Linked DNA regions of Homo sapiens. The protein of the gene in region 3 purifies or fractionates together with the protein of the main gene of each other region. This does not show direct contact. Each region holds a gene or a part of one and is shown on either strand. Other genes may lie near its edges.

Region 1 (5,025 bases), on a different chromosome or scaffold from region 3:
GTTTGTTACTCCAGGAGGTTTTTACACGCTGAGGCAATGCATCATAGTAAGATGGCTGAGAGGTATGCCTTTGTTTTGTTTTTGGACCTCAGGTGCATAGACTTGGTTTAATCATAATCCTTGTGTCACTCATCATTGGTCCATGCATGGCTCTCTTTTATTTATTTTAGTTACTTTAGTTATTTTTAATAATGTTAATAAGCAGCCATGAACCTACCAAACAAAAGCTAGAATGCTGAAAATAACATACTGTAATCATATTACCCCTACCCCCACCAACCTATCCCCTTGCCTTCCTCCACCTGAGGTAACCATCATCCCTGTTTTCTTTTGTATATACTTTTTGTTGCCATCTATATGTACTCATAAAAGGTTATATTTTAAAAATTTTAGTTGTTAATTTTATAAAAGCGCGTCATGCTGTTTGTAATATTTTGGGAATGACTTTTTAAACTAATATTGCTAAGATTCAACCATATTATTGCATCTGCCTTTATTTTATAACATGACTAATTGTGAAAGAGGAGATGTAAAAGAACTTGCTTAAACAAGCAGGCCATCCTCAAAGCTCAGTCTTAGGAAAGCAGACATATGGATATGGAAATTCCTTTAAAAAAATTCCAGGTGTACCCTCTTGGAGAGTCTTCGGGTACCTCCTAGAGGTAAACAGATCCAGGTTGAGGATTATAGGTATATATTACCAGGTGGGGTTGCTTAAGGGAATTTGTAGATATTCTGGGCAAGTTTATTCACCTTTCTAAGCCTCAAGTTTCTCATCTTTAAAATAGGTACAACAGTAACGTTCCATTAAATACTTAATTAGGGTAAGAAGAAAGCATTTATAAACCAAATATTTGTATCTTTAAGCAAAAGTTATTCTCTAGTGTTATCAGTTGTATGAAGTTACTTTAAGATAGAATTGACTAGGAATTGTGGGCAGTTTTGATAGTTGTTATTCGCAACTCTGTTGATAAATGATGAGCCGCTCTATGCCAGGATTACCTATTTTGAAAACTCGTCTGTAGCATCAGTTTAATTCTAGAGCATTTGGATAGACAAGCAAGTTAGTAAAAAGTAAGCTTTTACTGTTAAGTTCTTCACAAATGTTATGTTCTAGCCTTACTCTTTTTTTTTTTTTTTTTTTTTGAGATAGGGTCTGGCTCTGTCACCCAGGCCAGAGTGCAGTGGCATGATCTTGGCTCTCTGCAGCCTCTGCCTCCTGGGCTGAAGCCATCCTCCCACCTCAGCTTCCCGAGTAGCTGGGACTACAGACATGTGCCACCATGACTGGCTAATTTTTTTATAGAGACAGGGTTTCAGCATGTTGCCCATGCTGGTGAACTCCTGAGCTCAAGTGATCCACCCACCTTAGCCTCCCAAAGTGCCAGGATTACAGGCATGAGCTGCTGCGCCTGGCCCTTTACTACTTTTTTATCCCATATCTGGTTTCTGCAAATGGCATGTTTTTCTTTTTTGTGTGACAGGGCCTGGTTCTGTCGCCTAGGCTGGAGTGCAGTTACATGATCTCAGCTCACTGCAACCACCACCACCTGGGCTCAAGCTATTCTCCCACTTCAGCCTCCCAAGTAGCTGGGACTGCAGTGCACAACATCATGCCCAACTAATTTTTGTATTTTTGGCAAAGACAGGGTTTTGCCATGTTGCCCAGGCTGGTCTTGAACTCCTGGGCTCAAGCAATCCTCCCGTCTTGGCCTCCCTAAGCACTGGGATTATAGGCGTGAGCCACTGTGCCTGGCTGGAAATGGCATATTTTTCTGCCTTCTTTTTCATGTCTTATTCAGTGTATGATGTACTATCATAAGAACTGACTTTGAAAGGTTGCACCAACAGCAATAGTGGTGTTTTTTTTTTTTTTTTTTTTGAGACGGAGTCTCGCTGTGTCACCCAGGCTGGAGTGCAGTGGCGCAATCTCGGCTCACCGCAACCTCCACCTCCCGGGTTCATGCCATTCTCCTGCCTCAGCCTCCTGAGTAGCTGGGATTACAGGTGCCCGCCACCACGCCTGGCTAATTTTTGTATTTTTAGTAGAAACGGGGTTTTGCCATGTTGGCCAGGCTGATCTCAAACTCCTGACCTCAGATGATCCACCTATGTCGGCCTCCCAAAGTGCTGGGATTACAGGCATGCCCAGCATAGTAGCCTATTTTTATGAATATATATTCTTCATTCATAATTTTGATAAATGATTATTTATTGATTATTCAAAAGCCAAAGAAAAATAGATTATCTGTAAAGGCAAAGCAAGCCCTGAAGGAAGTGGGACAATAAGGATGATTTTTATTGGAAGAGTTTTACAGAGCCATTCTATGAAGTCTTCAAGAACTATTTGGGGTGGGGGCATAACTTTGTTGCTATATAGTAACTGTAGCATTTTTTGTTAAGAAATGCCATTTACAATTTAATTCCTTTTTTTTTTTCAGTCTCCCTTTATGGCAAGATTGTCATGAGTTATGGAGTAAAAAGCGAAGAAGACAGAAGCAGATGGGCATGACTGATGATGTTTCCACAATTAAAGCCCCCAGGAAGGACTTGTCTCTGGGCTTGGATGACAGCAGAACCAACACACCCCAGGGTGTGCTGCCATCTTCACAGCTGAAATCTCAGGGCAGCTCAAATGTGGCACCTGGTCAGTAATGCTTCCATGGGTTGGTTTTCTTCACATTGTTTTGCAGTTAATTCTGATCATATTGCTCTAATGTTAAAGCATCTTGTGGCTAACAATGAAAATTAACATTTATTCACTGAACTAGACATTTCTTTGTGCCAGTACAGAAGTTTCATTGCTATTGGCACCACAATTTTAAGTAATCTTAAGGTAACTTATAAAGAAGCATCAAATTACCTGACTGGCAAGTCCTCGGATTTCTGTATTTCCTTTTTACTCTTAGTGCAGGAGTGAGTAGGTCTTTTACTGACACTACTCTCAGTGAGGCTCAGCATTCAATGTCTATAGATGCTTAAGCAGTAGGAAGAAAGGTATAAGAAAACAGCCAAAAATCATAATGAGAGCTCTTTCATACCATTTATAGCGTCCTCATGTCACTCCTAATGTTATAATTTCTCTGGTTATATTAAAGAATCTTAAAGATTGGGGCCAGGCATGCTGGCTCACGCCTGTAATCCTAGCACTTTGGGAGACTGAGGCGGATGGATCACCTGAGATCAGGAGTTCGAGACTAGCCTGGCCAACATCGCGAAACCCCGTCTCTACTAAAAATACAAAAATTAGCCGGGCGTGGTGGCACACACCTGTAATCCCAGCTACTCGGATGCTGAGGAAGAAGAATCGCTTGAACTGGGGAGGTGGAGGTTGCAGTGAGCCGAGATTGCGCCACTGCACTCCAGCCTGTGCGACAGGAGCGAGACTCCATCTCAAAATATGTGTGTGTGTGTGTGTGAGTGAATCTGATATTTGTGCCCAAAATAACTTAAAATATGAGAAGGGAAGGCCAGGCATGGTGGCTCACATCTGTAATCCCAGCTCTTTGGGAGGCCACGATGGGCAGACCACTTGAGCCCATGAGTTCGAGACCAGCCCAGACAACTTCCTGAAACTCTGTCTCTACTAAAAATACAAAAAAAAAATTAGCTGGGCATGGTGGCACACACCTGTAATCCCAGCTACTCAGGAGGCTCAGGCACGATAATTGCTTGAACCCAGGAGGCAGATGTTGCAGTGAGCCAAGATTGAACCACTGCACTCCAGCCTGGGTGACAGAGCGAGACTGTCTCAAAAAAAAAAAAAAAAAGGATATCTTATATCTAGTTATTTTAGGGAAACTTAAATTTCTTCCTTTGACTCAGTCTGTCATAGAGTAAGCTTTTTGATGCAAAGTCTGCCTCTTCAATGTTGTCAAGAGTGTTAAAATCATTTAACAACTTTTTAAAAGGACCTCCACTCCCTCATTTTGCCTAAAACATCCAGAAACACCCATCTTTAATTTAACACCATCTTTAGTTGAAGTTTTATGAAAACAGAGACTGATATAAAATAGAGAGAGAGAGAGAGAGAGAGAGAGTGTGTGTGTGTGTGTGTGTGTGTGTGTGTGTAGGTGGTGGCTTATTAAACATGAAAAAATAGACTAGCACTTCTTAAGAGATGAGTATATGTTGATTGATGAGTTAGTTGATTAAAACAGATGTGTGGATCAGACTGAACTTTTGGTGGTTGAAGATAAATATAGATTAACTGAGAAAGCTTTAGGAAGATAACCATTAATGCTTGCCAATGTAGTCTACAAGCTTCTACTTGACCTTGGTTCAACTGCATACTTAAAGTACTCATTCAATGAATACCAAAAGCAATTGTTATTTGTTGTTCAAAAGTATTCTTTCTTGAAATAGTGAGTTCCCCTTATACATTAAAATATTTGTCCTGCTAACAAAAGGATGTGAAATGGCAATAACAGAAATTTTGGATGGTGATCTGTTTTCCCAGGCAACAGTTGTCATATTTGGCAAGACTCTCAGGTCTTTATTTCTGGTCCTCTTCATGGAACTGATGTCTTAAACTCTACCAAACGTAGTAGTTTACTCATTTTAGCTGGTAAAAAATGATTTGCCCTTTCTGGGCTCATTTTGTTGTTAATTTGCTCTAACTTACTTTACAACCCTGTTTTAATGGTGGATAATTTTATTTTTTATTTTCCTTTTTTAACTTTAATTTTTTTTTGAGACAGTCTCTGTCACCCAGGCTGGAGTACAGTGACACGATCTCAGCTCACTGCAATCTCCGCCTCCCAGGTTCAAGTGATTCTCCTGCCTCAGACTCCAGAGTAACTGGGATTACAGGCATGTGCCATCACGCTCAGCTAATTTTTGTATTTTTAATAGAGATGAGGTTTTGCCATGTTGGCCAGGCTGGTCTCGAACTCCTGACCTTGAGTTATCTATAAATAGCTGGGTGTGGTGGCTCATGCCCGTAATCCCAGCACTCTGGGAGGCCGGGGCGGGCTGTTTGCTTATGTTCGGGATTTCGAGACCAGCCTAGGTAACATGGCAAAA
Region 2 (5,025 bases), on a different chromosome or scaffold from region 3:
CCAAGACGATGTTTAACAGGAACTTTGTTAAGAACATATGCACCTGATGTCTGTGGTTTGCTCATCATCTGCACATACAAAATGAACACTTATGTGGCAGAAGTTTAAAAACATGCCTAGAAATGGTACAAATTTAAGATGATTACTCTAGGGAAGAAGATAAGAAAATGGGAACGGGAAGGTGCTTCAATTATCCGTAAGGTTTTATTTTTTAAGGGGAACTGGTGAATATACAAATGATAGATTATTCATACTTTTTGGGATGTCTAAAACATATCACAACAAAATATACATGCACCTACACACAAAAAAACCATTAATTATTTTTTAATGTTTCCTCTAGTATGCAATGCTCTGAAAGAATTAGAGGGTCTTGGCTGGGCACAGTGGCTCACACATATAATCCCAGCACTTTGGGAGGCCAAGGTGGGTGGATCACCTGAGGTCAGGAGTTCAAGACCAGCCTGGCCAACATGGTGAAACCCCGTCTCTACTAAAAATACAAAAATTGGGCAGGGGTGGTGGCATGCACCTGTAGTCGCAGCTACTCAGGAGGCTGAGGCAGGTAGCCTGAACCAGGAGGCAGAGGTTGCAGTGAACCAAGACTGAGCCACTGCACTCTAGCCTGAATGACGACAAAGCAGGACTGTCTCAAAAAAAAAAAAAAAGGAAAAAAGAAGAAGAAAAGAATTAGGGGGTCTTAACTGACAGTGGCTTAATATGAATAATTGTGAAATGATCACCTCAAAAACATAATGCAATCTTGGGCTGTACTAACAGAACATGTTTAATCATCACCATGAAGGTGATAGTATGAACTCTTTTCTACACTATTCACCCAACATCTAGGGGAAGCATTCACCTTTGCACCCTTACATGAAGTGGGATACAAACATAACTGAAAGAGAATTTAGATGCAAATGAGCAGGATGATAAATGGAGTTGATGCCATGTACTGTAAGGAATACTTTTTAAAAATCTGACTGTATTTAATCTAAGCATGAGATTATCTAGGTCAATCTCTGAATGGCTCTGATGTGTGGTAGTTTGTTGTTTTGTTTTTTCCTTCCTTCATCTATTCAATCAAATATGCTTTGAGCAATATGTACCAGACATTGTTTTAGGCACTAGGGATAGAATGGACACAACAGGCAAAATTCCAATTCTCTTGGAGCTTCTATTCCCATTTTTAGAAGGAACATATAACTTTTTTACATGGGAAAAAGGAGGGCAAATGGGTAGACACAAAAAAGACTGATTCTAAAAAATAAATAGCTCTACAGTTAAAGTTGCTCTGTGGTAGATGGTTATTATACTTTAGGGTGCATAACAATAACTTAAGAGTACTTGTTAAATATGTATATTTATAGGCCCTGTATCTAGAGACTGACTCTACAGAGGTTTGAGAAGCTGAAGCCCAGAAATTTGCACCCAGGTAAGTGATTCTGATGTAAAATAGCAGGTCTCAAACTTTAAGGTATGTAAGAATCACCAGGAGAGCTTGTTAAAACACAAATCCTTGGGCCCCACCCATAGGGATTCTGATTCAGTAGGATGGAGTATGGCTCAAGAATCTGAAATTTTTCCCCCAAGAATCTGCATTTCTATAAGATCCCAGGAGATCAGATGCTACTGGTCTGCAGTTCAAATTAAGAGTAGCTCTTCTGTAGAAGACCCAAGGACCAGGAATTGAAAAATACTGATCTAGAGGGTGTAACTAAAAGACCTTTAATTCCCAGTGAACCAGATTACCTTCTGGATACCTCCGTGCACTGTTGAAGGAGCAGACTGGGCCACTAGCACCTGCTGCTGATGTAGATGCTGTGGCAGGTGATGGTGCTGCTGTGAGAGGTGACTAAGTGTTTGCTGTTGTTGCAGGAGCAGCTGTGCTGAGGACTGTAGTGTCGGTTGCTCATTATTTTCCCTATGCCACAAGACTCGAATGAATCGGTTGTTTAGAACTGCTTCTGTGCTAGAAATGGCTTTCCTGGCCTCCTCATTGGTAAGATATTGGATTAGGGCTGCTTCTGGGTCACCCTTAAAAGCAACCTTGAAGAAAATAAAACAATATAAATTCCCAAAAACAGAAAATAGTTAAATAAATTATGACCCACTGCTATGTAATGAATGTTTTCCCCAAAATACACATGTTAAAGCCCTAAACTCCAACATTACTGTTTTAGAGATAGAGCTTTTAGGATGTAATTAAGGTTAAATGAGGTCACAAAGGTGCATCCTAATGAATAGTATCGGTGGCCTTAAAAGAAGAGAAAGAGATCTGCCCTGACCCCCTCTTTCTCTTTCTCTGTCTGCCATGTGAGAACACAAGAAGCCAACCATCTGCAAGCGAGGAAGACAGCACTCCCTAGGAAATGAATCATCCAGCACCTTGATCTTGGACTTCTCAGTCTCCAAAACTGTGAGGCTACCCATTCTCTTTCAGGAAGAGATTGCAGAAAAGAACCAAATGAATTCACAAGAACAAACATGGTTTAACAAGTCCATCATAAAAGTGGGTATATAGATATATGGTGGCATTTACAGCACTTAGCAGAGATGATCAGAATAACCACTGACTCATTTAAACAAGGTGAGCTGATAGAAATATTCCCAAGACCCATAAAATGCCTGGATTCTGTCACTGACATAGCCACATTTACCTGGATATTAACAATAGTTCCAAATTTGCTGAAGTGTTCATTGAGCTTGGTAATGTTGTTCAATTCCTGAGGGATTTTCTTGACTTCTAATTTGGTGTTTGTATACTGATTCTTTCGTAAGAACCCTGGTTTATTTTGATTGTTATTTCCTTGCCTAAAAGGAAGATTAATACATCTTGGTTAATTCTCCTACTTCATGCCTAGCAAAGAGATATAACCACAAAGAATTTAGGTTTATAATTTTTTTAAGTGCCTTTTGTGGCTGGGCATGGTGGCTCCACCTATAATCCCAGAAAACTTCTTCAAAATCATATGAAACATTATATTCAAAATTCAAACCACAGAAAATACATAAGCATCCAGAAACAGATTACAGGCTGAGCGAAGTAGCTCATGCCTGTAACGCCAGCACTCTGAGAGGCCAAAGCAGGAGGATTGCTTGAGCCCAGGGGTTCCAGACCAGTCTGGGGAACATAGTAAGACCACATCTCTATGTAATAAATTAACTGATTGATTAATTTGTTTAAAGTTCCTTTTGTGAGCCCTTAACATTCTTCGGAAATTACTAAGCAATTTTCACATTCTTCTTTTTTTTTTTTGTAGACGGAGTCTCACTCATTCGCCCAGGCTGGAGTGCCGTGGAACAATCTCGGCCCACTGCAACCTCCACCTCCCAAGTTCAAGTGATTCTCCTGCCTCAGCTTCCTGAGTATCTGGGATTACAGGTGCATGCCAACACGCACGACTAATTTTTGTATGCTTAGTACAGACAAGGTTTCACCATGTTGGCCAGGCTGGTCTTGAACTCCTGGCGTCGGTGATCTACCCGTCTCGGCCTCCCAAAGTGCTGGCATTACAGGTGTGAGCCACTACGCCCGGCCAACATTATTCTTTTTTTTTTTTTTTTTTTTTTTTTTTTGAGACGGAGTCTCGCTCTGTCGCCCAGGCCGGACTGCGGACTGCAGTGGCGCAATCTCGGCTCACTGCAAGCTCTGCTTCCCGGGTTCACGCCATTCTCCTGCCTCAGCCTCCCGAGTAGCTGGGACTACAGGCGCCCGCCACTGCGCCCGGCTAATTTTTTGTATTTTTAGTAGACACGGGGTTTCACCTTGTTAGCCAGGATGGTCTCGATCTCCTGACCTCATGATCCACCCGCCTTGGCCTCCCAAAGTGCTGGGATTACAGGCGTGAGCCACCGCGCCCGGCCACATTATTCTTATTACATGAGAATAGAAAAGGTGAACAGCAATAGATTACAAAAAGAAAAGGCCCAACTAACACTTAAAATCATATGCTAAATAGATCTACCATAAAGATCTACCACAATTATCAAAGACTCTAACATCATTAAATGAAGGCTAGAACACCACCTTTTTTTTTTTTTTTTTTTTTTTGAGACAGAGTTTTGTTCTTTTTGCCCAGACTGGAGTGCAATGGTGCAATCTCAACTCACTGCAACCTCCGCCTCCCAGGTTCCAGCGATTCTCCTGCCTCAGCCTCCCAAGTTGCTGGGATTACAGGCGCGTGCCACCACACCTGGCTAATTTTGTATTTTGGCTTTCTCCATTTTGGTCAGGCTGGTCTCGAACTCCTGACCTCAAGTGATCCACCCGCCTTGGCCTCCCAAAGAGCTGGGATTATAGGCGTGAGCCACTGTGCCCAGCTAGAACATCATCTTTAACGGCATATTTTCAACTTCTGCAAAGGTACTAAGCTTTTTTTTTTCACCGTTGATTTCATTTTTTTCTTCTTTTCTATCCATTGCTAGTGTCTCAGTAATTTCTAATATTGGGTTAGGCGTAGAAATAGGTAGGTACGAATTAGAAATACCTATTTTGGGCTGGATGTGGTAGCTCACACCTGTAATCCCAGCACCTTGGGAGGCCAAGGTGGGTGGATCACCTGAGGTCAGGAGTTTGAGACCAGCCTGACTAACAAGGTGAAACCCCATCTCCGCTAAAAATACAAGAAAATCAGGTGGGCATGGTGGCTGGCACCTGTAATCTCAACTACTCAGGAGGCTGGGACAAGAGAATCACTTCAACCCAGGAGGCAGAGGTTGAGGTGAGCTGAGATTATACCATTGCACTCCAGCCTGGATGACTACGTCTTTTAAAAAAAAAAAAAAAATTATAAATATTGTTAACTTTTTAATTTTTACAACATTCTAAAGATGTCTCCTGGAACCCTAACTTCAAGATACCTAGTTTGAAAAACATTAATTAATGACAAATCTTATTTTTATGAATTTACCAATGCAAACGACAATAACAATTAGATGCTACTAATTAGCAAATTATCTTACTTTCCCAGCCAAGGTTTCTTTGTGAGTGGCCCTTCCAAACCACTCATAGCTCTTTTTCGA
Region 3 (5,025 bases):
AACATTTATCTTAACAGATGCATGTTCCTGGTCATTCGGGATTTATAGGCAATGAAGAAGCTGACAGATTAGCCAGAGAAGGAGCTAAACAATCGGAAGACTGAGCCATGTGACTTTAGTCCTTGGGAGAACTTGAGCCAGCGGCTGTCTTGCTGCCTGTACTTACTGGTGTGGAAAATAGCCTGCAGGTAGGACCATTGCAGTGATGGGCAGATGCGTCTTTCACACGGAATCAGGCACAGTGGCCTTCTGTGACATGTGTTTATAAAAAATGGTTAAGTATATAATAAATTGAACATCTTTGAGATTGGAGAATTATGTGAGATTTCCACATTATGTTTACTGGGTTCAATACTGTCCTTGCTTGTTTTATTGCAGGCAAGCAAGGCAAATGGCCTAAAATGCTGTGGCTTATATTTTGATAAGAAATCAAAAAACCATTGGTTAAAAGATGCAACTCAGAAGTCTGGAAGTATTCTGAAAGCATCCATTTACCGTCCAGTTGACAGGTTTGAGTCTCCTGCTTGTATAGGTGACTTGTGCCCATGGGTACATTAAAGGAACATGCTGCCCAGGGCCTGGGCGGACAGCTCAGTGGGCAGGATGTGTGCTGGGTCTCAGCCCCATGTGCCTGCTTGCTGGGCAGTTAGTATAGGGCAAAGCCTGCCTGCGGCGACCCTGGCTGCTAGGCCATTCTCTAGGAACAGCTGCGACTCATAAAGACCAAGAAGCATAAATAAACTTTCAAAAATTTATTTGGCTCTTTCGTTAAAAACTGTGCAAATTAAAAAAAAAAAAAAAAAAGTAAGACACCGGCTGGGCACAGTGGCTCACTTCTGTAATCCTAGCACTTTGGGAGGCCAAGGCGGGCAGATCACTTGAGGTCAGGAGTTTGAGACCAGCTTGGCCAACATGACGAAACCCTGTCTCTACTAAAATTACAAAAATTATCCAGGTGTGGTGGCACGGGCTTGTAGTCCCAGCTACTTGGGAGGCTGAGGCACAAGAATCACTTGAACCCAGGCGGCAGAGGTTGCAGTGAGCCAAGATTGCACCACTGCACTCCATCCTGGGCAACAGAGTGAGACTCTGTCTCAAAAAAAAAAAAAAGTAGTAAAAGTTTGACATGATTATTTATTTAGTTTTAAACCTTTTTATTATAAAAACATACAGGAAGTGACACAAAACAAATGTATAGCTTATTGAATGATTATGATTGTAAGGTGAATAACCTTTGTGTCCACCACCTGGTGAAGAAATAGTACTTTGCCAGATACCCCAGGAGGCTCTCCCAAGTGCCCCTCCAGCCACAGCCCTCTTCTTCTCCCCCTCCTTGCCCCAACAAGTAATCCTGACTTTTACAGAAATGACTTTCTTGGTTTTTTGATGGCAGTTTAGTCTTGTCTGCTTTTTTTTGTTTATTTTTTTATCTACTTCAGTGTCCATTTGCAGTCCCGTCGGCCTCACTGTTTTCCCTGCCGTTTATCTGTTGAAGAGCCTGGGCTGTTTGTCCCATGGCTTCCCACAGTGTAGATTTTGCTGACCACGTGGTCATGGTGTAGTTCAGCATGGTCCTCTATGTTTCCTGCACATTGGCAGCTGGGTCCAGAGGCTTGATGAGCCTCAAATTTGATCCCTTTGGCAGGAGAACAGGCGGTTAGGAGCTTTCCTCAGGAAAGTACCATGTTGACGGCAGCTGATGCTCAGTGCCAAGATCCATTAATTATTTGGGGTTGCAAAATGGTGGTATTCTCATTCTGTCGTTTTGCTTGCCTTTATTAGCTGGAATGGTTTTCTAAGAAAGTGTTTTCTTTTTTATACTTATCTGGTTACCCAGTGGTACAGTTCATATAGGAAGGGCAGGATAAATGCTTGATTCTTTGCTCTTGTACACTAAGTTTTTAAGATAATGCATTAGTTGTCTGTCAAGGAAGGTGAGTGGTGAAGGGTTTTTACATATATACAAGAATTCATGGGCTGGGCATGGTGTCTTATGCCTGTAATCCCAGCACTTTGGGAGGCTGAGGCTGGAGGATCACATGAACCCAGGAGTTTGAGACTAGTCTGGGCAACATAGTGACACCCTGTCTCTACAGAAAATTAAAATAAAATCAGGTGGGTGTGGTAGTGCCTGCCTGTTGTCCCAGCTATTCTGGAGGCTGAGATGGGAGGATCGCTTGGGCCCAGGAGGTCGAGGATGCGTGAGCTGTGACCATGCCACCACATTCCAGCCTGGGCGACAGCAAGTCCTTGTCTTAAAAAAAAAAAAGAATTTGTGGAGTTAAGCATACTTGGTGGGTTTCAATCCGTTGTGATTTTTATCTTTATTTAGCTCAGACTAGCTTATTCGGTCAGTGAGAGGGAGCCTCTTCAGCTTGGCTCTTGCTTTCTTTTGATAAGTGTGCACATGTGTGCATACATGTGTGCACAGACCACACGCACAGTCATTGATAGCTCCCTGCAGCCTGGCATGTCAAGATGCTCTAGGCCCAATTTATAGAGCTTCTGCTCCAAACCTGTCTTAAAAGAAAAACTTTAGACAAGTTAGCAGTTTAATTGAGCAGAAAATAGTTTCTTCAGCTGGGTAGCACTCAGGACCAAAAGTGGTTCAGAACGTTCTCCTGTGCGTTGTGTGCAGGCTGTATTTATTTATAGCCACAGGAAGGGAAAGACACATGTACATGGCCAGACTGACTGCAGGTCAGCCTCCACCTCACATAGGCATGTTTTGGGAGCCTTCAGCATGTGATTGGTGAGACTCTGCTGCTTGTTACAGAAGTGTACTCTCAAGTCAGGTCCCAGTTTGCTTATACATTAAGTGAGGTTATAAGTCACTATGTACAGAGGCAGTTTTAGGCCAAACTTAATTCCGTTTAACACTTGGAATCCATTATTTTTCCCAGAGTCTCTGGTAGAGATGGTATTTCAGATCCAGTTTAGGATGCTCATTGCTATTGCGTTGGTCATTATTTCTAGATTTTTGGACGGAGCTTTAAAAAAATACAAACATTGCACACACATATTTAAAGGAAGAATATTTTCTGAGCCTATATTGATATTCCCAATACAAATTCAGGGTCCTGGGGCCTTTACATAGCCTCCTCTATATGATGTCTGTGTCTCCTGCACTCGGAATCCTGCTTCTCAAGACACAGGACAATGGCATGGAATATCCATCCCTTAATCACTCACTTGTTTTATTCCTCTTTAGCATTTAGCATTTAAAAAAAATACTAATACCATAGCATTAATTGTGATGATGAAAACAGCACTGTGTCTACGTTGTCAGAAAAATTGCTCCTTTTTACCACCATTGACTCATTTCTGTGTGTTCAGGTCTCATAACCAGTCTATAGTCAGTGTCATCTTGGGGACAGTATTCCTTGAGTTTCTGATGTTGAATTCAGTTTTGCTGGATACGAAATTCTTGGCCCAGATTTTCTTTGAGTATCTTGTTTTATTCTGTTTTCTTCCAGCATAAAGTGATGCATGAAAAGCCTGATGAATCTTGTTTTCTTCCCCTGACAGTCATATGCTGTTTTTCCTTAGATGCCCAAAGGATTTTTTCCTTTTTCTGTCAAGTCGGCCGTTTTATTCGAATGTGTCATGTGTTGGTATTGGTTGTCCTGGTCCATATTTGCAAGCGTATGGTGTGCTCTTTCTATGTGTACTTCATATCTGTTATTTTAAGAAGATTTGCTTGAACTGGAGTTTAGTGTTACATTTTTCTTGCTTTGGCTTTTTTCTGTGGGGATCCCTGTTATCTGTATGTTGAAATCTAAATTGGCTGTTCTCAGTGTTTGCCACTGTCTCTTGAATCTCTTTTATCTCTTTCTTTGTTTCTTTTTGAGTTTTAAAAGTTGTTATTGTACCACTTTTGTTTTGTTTTGTTATTTAAAATAGGAACAGTGTCTCACTGTGTTGCCCAGGCTGGTCTTAAACTCCTGGCCTCAAGCGATCCTCCTTCCTTGGCCTCCCAAAGTGCTGGGATTACAGGTGTGAGCCACCAAAGCCGGCCCCACCTTGCTTTTTAAAACAGCTCTGTTGAGGTGTAACTGACAGGTAATGAACTGCACATACGTGAAGTGACCGATGCATTTGCCTGTGAAGCTGTCGCCAGAACATGTCCATCACCACCAACAGCAGTTTCACACCCCGGTCTAAACCGTCCCTCGTGTCCTCCATGTTCAGGCAACCACTGGTCTGCTCCCTCTCACTAAAGGTTAATTTATATATTCTAGAATTTTATCTGAGTGGAATCGCAGAGCAAGTACTGTGGGGGGAGGTGCTTCTACTCAGCATAATTATTTTGGCATTCACCCATTTTGTGTACATCAATAATCCACATTTTGTATTGCATGGATATACCACAGTTTATTTATTTACCTGTTGACCGATATTTCGATTATTTCCAATTTCTAAATAAAAATAAAGCAAATAAAGCTGCCGTGAACATTTATATCCTCGTCTTTGTCTTCTGTTTCTCTTGGGTAAATGCCTTGGAATGGAATGCTTGGTCATATGGCAGGTGTGTGCTCTTTTTTTCTTTTTTTTTTTTTGGAGATGGAGCCTCACTCTGTCACCCAGGCTGGAGTGCAGTGGCGTGATCTTGGCTCACTGTAAGCTCTGCCTCCCGGGTTCACACCATTCTCCTGCCTCAGCCTCCCGAGTAGCTGGGACTACAGGTGCCCGCCACTACACCCGGCTAATTTTTTTGTATTTTTAGTAGAGGTGGGGTTTCACTGTGTTAGTCAGGATGGTCTCAATCTCCTGACCTCGTGATCCGCCTGCCTCGGCCTCCCAAAGTGCTGGGATTACAGTGTGAGCCCAGCCAGCTGGTGTGTGCTTTTTAAGAAACTGTGAAACTTTTCCAAGTGTGAACTTTACACTTTACATTCCCTCCAGTCAGGCAGGAGAGTTCCAGTTCACTCCACATCCTTGTCAACACTTGTCACCTCATTCTGTTACAAATGTCCATAAGTTTTTTGGTTTTGCTGTTTAGTAGTTCTGTTTTTAGGTGGGGAT
Region 4 (5,025 bases), on a different chromosome or scaffold from region 3:
AAAATAGTTTCACTGGAGTAGAGTTGTGCAGATGGAAGTCCTATTTCGGTGTATTGGAGAGTGGGCATCATAGTATAGCGGTGAGGAGAACTCTGGAGCAGAATGTCTGGCTTTGAATTCTGCCTCTGCCACTTACCAGCTGTATGATATTGGGTAAGTTACTTAACTCAGGGCTTCCATTTCCTCAACTGTAAAATTGGGAAAATAATGGGTGTATATTAAGGAAATCTTAGACTACTGTCTGGTGTGTAATTAGCATTCAGTAGTTATTAGGTGAATACAAAACTTATAAATGTTTTGGATTGAAATAGCTTTCCTTTAAGCGTTCAGTTTCATATTAGATTTACTGCCGTATCCCTCCATCTTACCTAAATGAGAAGACTGTAGCTACTTAGAGTGTATGCTTGTAATTTTTCTTTAGTCTTAATGAAACATATTCCATGTATCATAAAGCCTACTCTCGATGGCTGTAGCACTGCAGTCATTATGTTGTAATAAATAAGGCTCTGCTAGTAGAGCCTAGACACTGGGAATTGTAATTGGTCCTTTTCTAATGTGTGTAGCTGTGGTAAAATTGAGCCCTTATTCAAGTTCTTGTCCTTTTAATTGCATTTCAGGTGGATTCTTTTGTATGATGACTTATAAAAGCTGATCCCAATTATGGATCAGTGGTTTCTAACGTTGGTTTTGTGAAATGTTATGATCTGTTATCTAAAAGGAATTTTTTTTTTTTTTTGCTTTAACATTGTAATTACCAAACGACCTCTGTTTGAGAGAGGAACATACAGAGGACCAAGGGTAAGCTGTAACTTGAAACTTACATAAAACTTTTTAGTTACCTGTGGTGGTTAAATACTTCATGGTTTTGGACTTACTCCACATTTTGAATGTGTTAATTCAGCAAACATTTATTTTAAGAGTACTTAACCTACTCTGTGCTAAGCAGTGTGCAAGATATAGTAGGTAACAAGACATGAAATGACTCACTTCATTTTATTTACCATTTAGCAGGAAAGATAGGTGTTGAAGTCTGGGAACATCAGGAAACACTTCCCTGGTGTAATGTTTATCTCAGCTTGGAAGGATGAAGAATACTTTGCTGGGGCAAAAGGATGGGATTGGAGACCTGTGAAAGCGTTATAGGTTTGGTGAACAGATTGTATGGAGGTCCTAAAAATGGACAAAAAAGATATGTTGGAGGAATTGAAAGAAATAGAAAAAAGCAAAGGAGAAGAATGGCAGTGGAAAGCTCCAGAGATAGGAGCCAGATCACACAGGACTTTGTTGAGTCATGTTTAAGACTTTGGATGTTATTGAAGGATAGTGGGAAGCCAGTGAAGGGTTTTAGGGCAAGAGGGTTTTCAGATGGATGTTTAAAAAAAAAAAAAAAAGCCTGGCTGTGTTTTCAGCGTGAAATAGAAGTCTGCATATCTGTATTTACTGTTTCATAACTTCTGTACATGTATCAGGGTTCTGAGTTTCATAAATTATTGAAAATAATTTTCAATGTCTTTTTCATAAATTGAGAATTTTGAACTTTATTAAAATTGTCATCTTGAAATGCTTAAGATTGATGTTTTGTTATCTCAAAGATTTGCTTAGTCATACTTGCCAATAATATGAAACTAAATGTTAGTCTTTTTTCTAACATTTCGTTTTGATGATGAGAAGTCCTGAAAAAAAAATTAAGCTCCTTTGTTGTAGTAAACTTTTAAACAAACAAAAAAAACAGAAAACACTTTCTACTGTATTTAAAACTTTTAGGTGGACTTACACATCAAAGTCATGTTTTTTTTTTTTTCCTGAAGAGACACCTAAACATCTAATGAAACTTTAATTTTTTAGAAAATAAAATTGAGGGGCAGGTGGATGTAATGACGTACTGAGGTTTTGTGAGTTGAGTAGTAAAGAACAAAATGCCTAGTGTTGTGCTTCTGCCACTGTGTAGTGCTGTGGAGGAAGTGTGTGGTGGAAGGAAGATCTCTGTGTCCAGATCAGTATTCAAATCTCACTTCTGCCATTTATTAGCTGTCTAGGCAAAGAAACCTCCTCTTTCCTTATTGGTATAATAGGAAGAATTACAGTATTTCCATCTATAGTTGAAAGGGTTGAATGGGACACATGTTTGTGAGCCTTGCCCTTCCCCTCCTTTCTTAGATATTGGTTGATTAAACACAGATAGGCTACATTACTACTGTTGCTACTGTTAGAATTATCACCAACACTCCTGCTGTGACTACCACCTAAACTGTATGCATTGTTGTTAAACATTTTGTATTATTGTACTTACAAGTTTTATGAGGTAAGCATTGTTATCTCTCCATTTTGCAGGTGATGATACTGAGGCACTGAAGCATGAAGTTATTTGCCCACAGTGATTTAAACTAAGGCTTTTTGACTCTAGAGCTGTGTGCATATTCTTAATTTACTACTACAGAATGCAGCATCCTAGTGTTTTCTGTTACTGCATATACTTTTTTACTATGACATTTTGATAGTATTGGCTACTATTGTAAAAGAACAAAGTTCTAAAGCATCGTGATTATCAGTGCTTTAGAGTTTAAGAAATAAACATCTTTGTGGTTTTTGTAGTATTTTTCCCCTTCACCTGTACTTGTTACTACACCTTTCTCACCACATTAAAATTTATTTTTGTTCGTGTCTGATAGGAAGAGTTATTCTTTTGGGTTGGCTAAATGATCTTTTTACTCCTGAACTTTTGAGTATTTTTGATTCCTTTGACCTTTCCTTTTCAGTTGGCTTCTTTTGGCATAGTAAGTCCATTTCCCATTCTTTAGGAAAAACTCAGCAATAATAGCAAAAAACAAAACAAAAGATAAAACGCTTCTAGTCACTTTCTTGCTAGCTTTCTGTTCCTGTCGCTGGTAAATCTTGAAGTAGTAGTCAGACTTTTAATTTTTTGTTAATTTGCCCTCAGCCATTTACTTCTTAATGTCTTGGAATAGAATTTCTTCGTTGTAATATAATTACAACCAAAATTACTTACCTCAGTGTTACCAATCAATTTATATTTATTGCCTGAAGTTTTATATTTTTTGCCCTATGCGTGTATAACATCAGTGTTGATGCCACCTTTTTAACTTACTTGCCTTGAATCCCTAATGTGTTGGTTCCTTTTCTTAAGTCAGTCTTACCCTCTTTTGTTCCTTTTCTTCAGATTCTAATTGTATTTTTCAGTGTTGTTACATTGACATTTTTTTCTTCATCCATTTTTTACTTCTGACATTTCATTAATTACTGCTAAGATTTGAATGTTTGTCTTCTCCAGAATTCATGTTGAAATTTAATTTCGTTAAGTATTAAGAGGTGATTAGGTCACGAGGGCTCTGCCTTTGTTGATTGGATTAATGCCTTTATAAAAGGTTAGGTTTTGCCTCTGCCCCTCTGACTTCTGCTATGGGAGACCTCTGACTTCTGCCATGGGAGGAACTCCGGAGGATGCAGTGTTCAAGGTCTATCTTGGAATCAGAATTGCCAAACCTGCCAGTACCTTGATATGAGACTTCCCAGCCTCCAGAACTGTGAGCCAATAAATTTCTTTATAAATTACCCATCTTGTGGTATTCTGTTATAGCAGCACAAACGGACTAAGACCTTTCCCATGAATGGTTTTCTTTGTAATACATGCCAGTGGTTCTTAAAAACTTTTTTTGGAGTGTATATTGTAGATCCTTTAAAGTCTGATTAAAGACTGTCTCCCTAGGATTTACAAATACATACACATTTGCATTGAATTTCAGAGCTTTTCACTCTGAGCTTGTTAATGGATTCCAAACTAGAACCTCTACTCTGCATTTATTTTCACATAAGTATGTTTAGACTTAACCACTCTTCACAGTCTTAAGCTTTTATCTCTAATTGCTGGCTGTATATCTGCTTGGATCGCTCATCTAAACTTCAAACTAATTTCTGAAAAGAAGTGTTTTCTGGATTCACTTATTTTAATTTCATTTCTCCAAATTATGCTGGCTTGAAATTTTTTGGCTTCTCCTTCCTCCCATTCACTTAGTCATGAGGTTCTCTCTTAATAATCCTTACTGACATTGCTTAGTAGGGGGCTCACACTCCGTATCTAAATGATTGCAGTTTGCTTCCTAACAAATCTGTTTTTATCTCTAGGCCTTTCTCCCTTCCAGTTCTTCTGACATGGATGCCCAGCCTTGTTTGTATCCCATTGCTTGATCAAAACCTTCAGCATTCCCAGATAATAAATTGCATACTTTTTAGCTTGCCTTTAAGAAAGCTAATGATTTGCTTTAAATTATCTTTTCCATTTATATCTTTCTACTTTTTATATGAGTCTTAATTTCAGCAAAGCTGAACTTTCGTGATTCACTGTCATTTTTTTTTATTGTTTCTTTTTTCTGAAACTTTACTGTTTCTTTTTTCTGAAGATTAGTAGTGGGCACCATTTATTGAGTGCTTACTATTAATATATGTTAATTGTTATACATTCATTGTGTGCAAGATAGGTGTTAGGAAGATGAATTAGCATACTTTATTCATAGCTAGTAAGTGATGGAGACAGGATCCAAAAGAAGACATTTTGATTCCAGAGCCTTGTTGTATTATGGTGTACTGTCTTTATATCCTTTCTTTGTGTTGAAGTCAAAGATCAAGTGTGATTCCAGTTCTTCCAGAAAGCTGCCTATGATCTATCCAGCTGGGTGAAGTGACTCCTCCCACCATGACTCCTCTCTCTCAGCACTGGTTTCAGTTGTCATGACACTCATCACTTGTACATTAAATTATTTAGTCGTGTTATTTTAGCTTTATTATTAGAGTCTCAGGCCCTTGAAAGCAGACTCCAGCTCTTAAGATTTAACTATGTTCCTGTTCATTATATACATTATCTAGCACAATGCTTTGTGTGTAGTATATACCTGATTATTAAATGCGTTAGTTGAAATTTCAAGTTTGTGTACCTAAAACCAAGGGAAGAGGCAATAATTTGGGTAAAACTATAGAATCTACCCAACTTCAGAACAGCAGATATGTGAGCTA

The links. The genes of interacting proteins can lie anywhere in the genome.
Region 1: the proteins of RNASEH1 (region 3) and CDK13 purify together in Homo sapiens (affinity purification with mass spectrometry; one large-scale study listed by BioGRID and IntAct). This does not show direct contact.
Region 2: the proteins of RNASEH1 (region 3) and RBM27 purify together in Homo sapiens (affinity purification with mass spectrometry; one large-scale study listed by BioGRID and IntAct). This does not show direct contact.
Region 4: the proteins of RNASEH1 (region 3) and RBM26 purify together in Homo sapiens (affinity purification with mass spectrometry; one large-scale study listed by BioGRID and IntAct). This does not show direct contact.

The regions. Positions count from the first base shown.
Region 1 is NC_000007.14:40,085,685-40,090,709, forward strand, and holds part of CDK13 (cyclin-dependent kinase 13), read left to right. Parts: intron 1-2,441; coding exon 2,442-2,647; intron 2,648-5,025. UniProt on the Homo sapiens protein: Cyclin-dependent kinase which displays CTD kinase activity and is required for RNA splicing.
Region 2 is NC_000005.10:146,258,534-146,263,558, reverse strand, and holds part of RBM27 (RNA-binding protein 27), read right to left. Parts: coding exon 4,966-5,025; intron 2,815-4,965; coding exon 2,661-2,814; intron 2,050-2,660; coding exon 1,753-2,049; intron 69-1,752; coding exon 1-68. Other genes in the region: RBM27-POU4F3, read right to left, coding at 1-68, 1,753-2,049, 2,661-2,814, 4,966-5,025. UniProt on the Homo sapiens protein: May be involved in the turnover of nuclear polyadenylated (pA+) RNA.
Region 3 is NC_000002.12:3,540,864-3,545,888, reverse strand, and holds the end of RNASEH1 (ribonuclease H1 isoform 1 precursor), read left to right. Parts: coding exon of another isoform or gene 1-17; coding exon 18-104; 3' UTR 105-4,459; downstream 4,460-5,025. UniProt on the Homo sapiens protein: Endonuclease that specifically degrades the RNA of RNA-DNA hybrids.
Region 4 is NC_000013.11:79,398,802-79,403,826, reverse strand, and holds part of RBM26 (RNA-binding protein 26), read left to right. Parts: exon of another isoform or gene 1-798; intron 799-5,025. UniProt on the Homo sapiens protein: May be involved in the turnover of nuclear polyadenylated (pA+) RNA.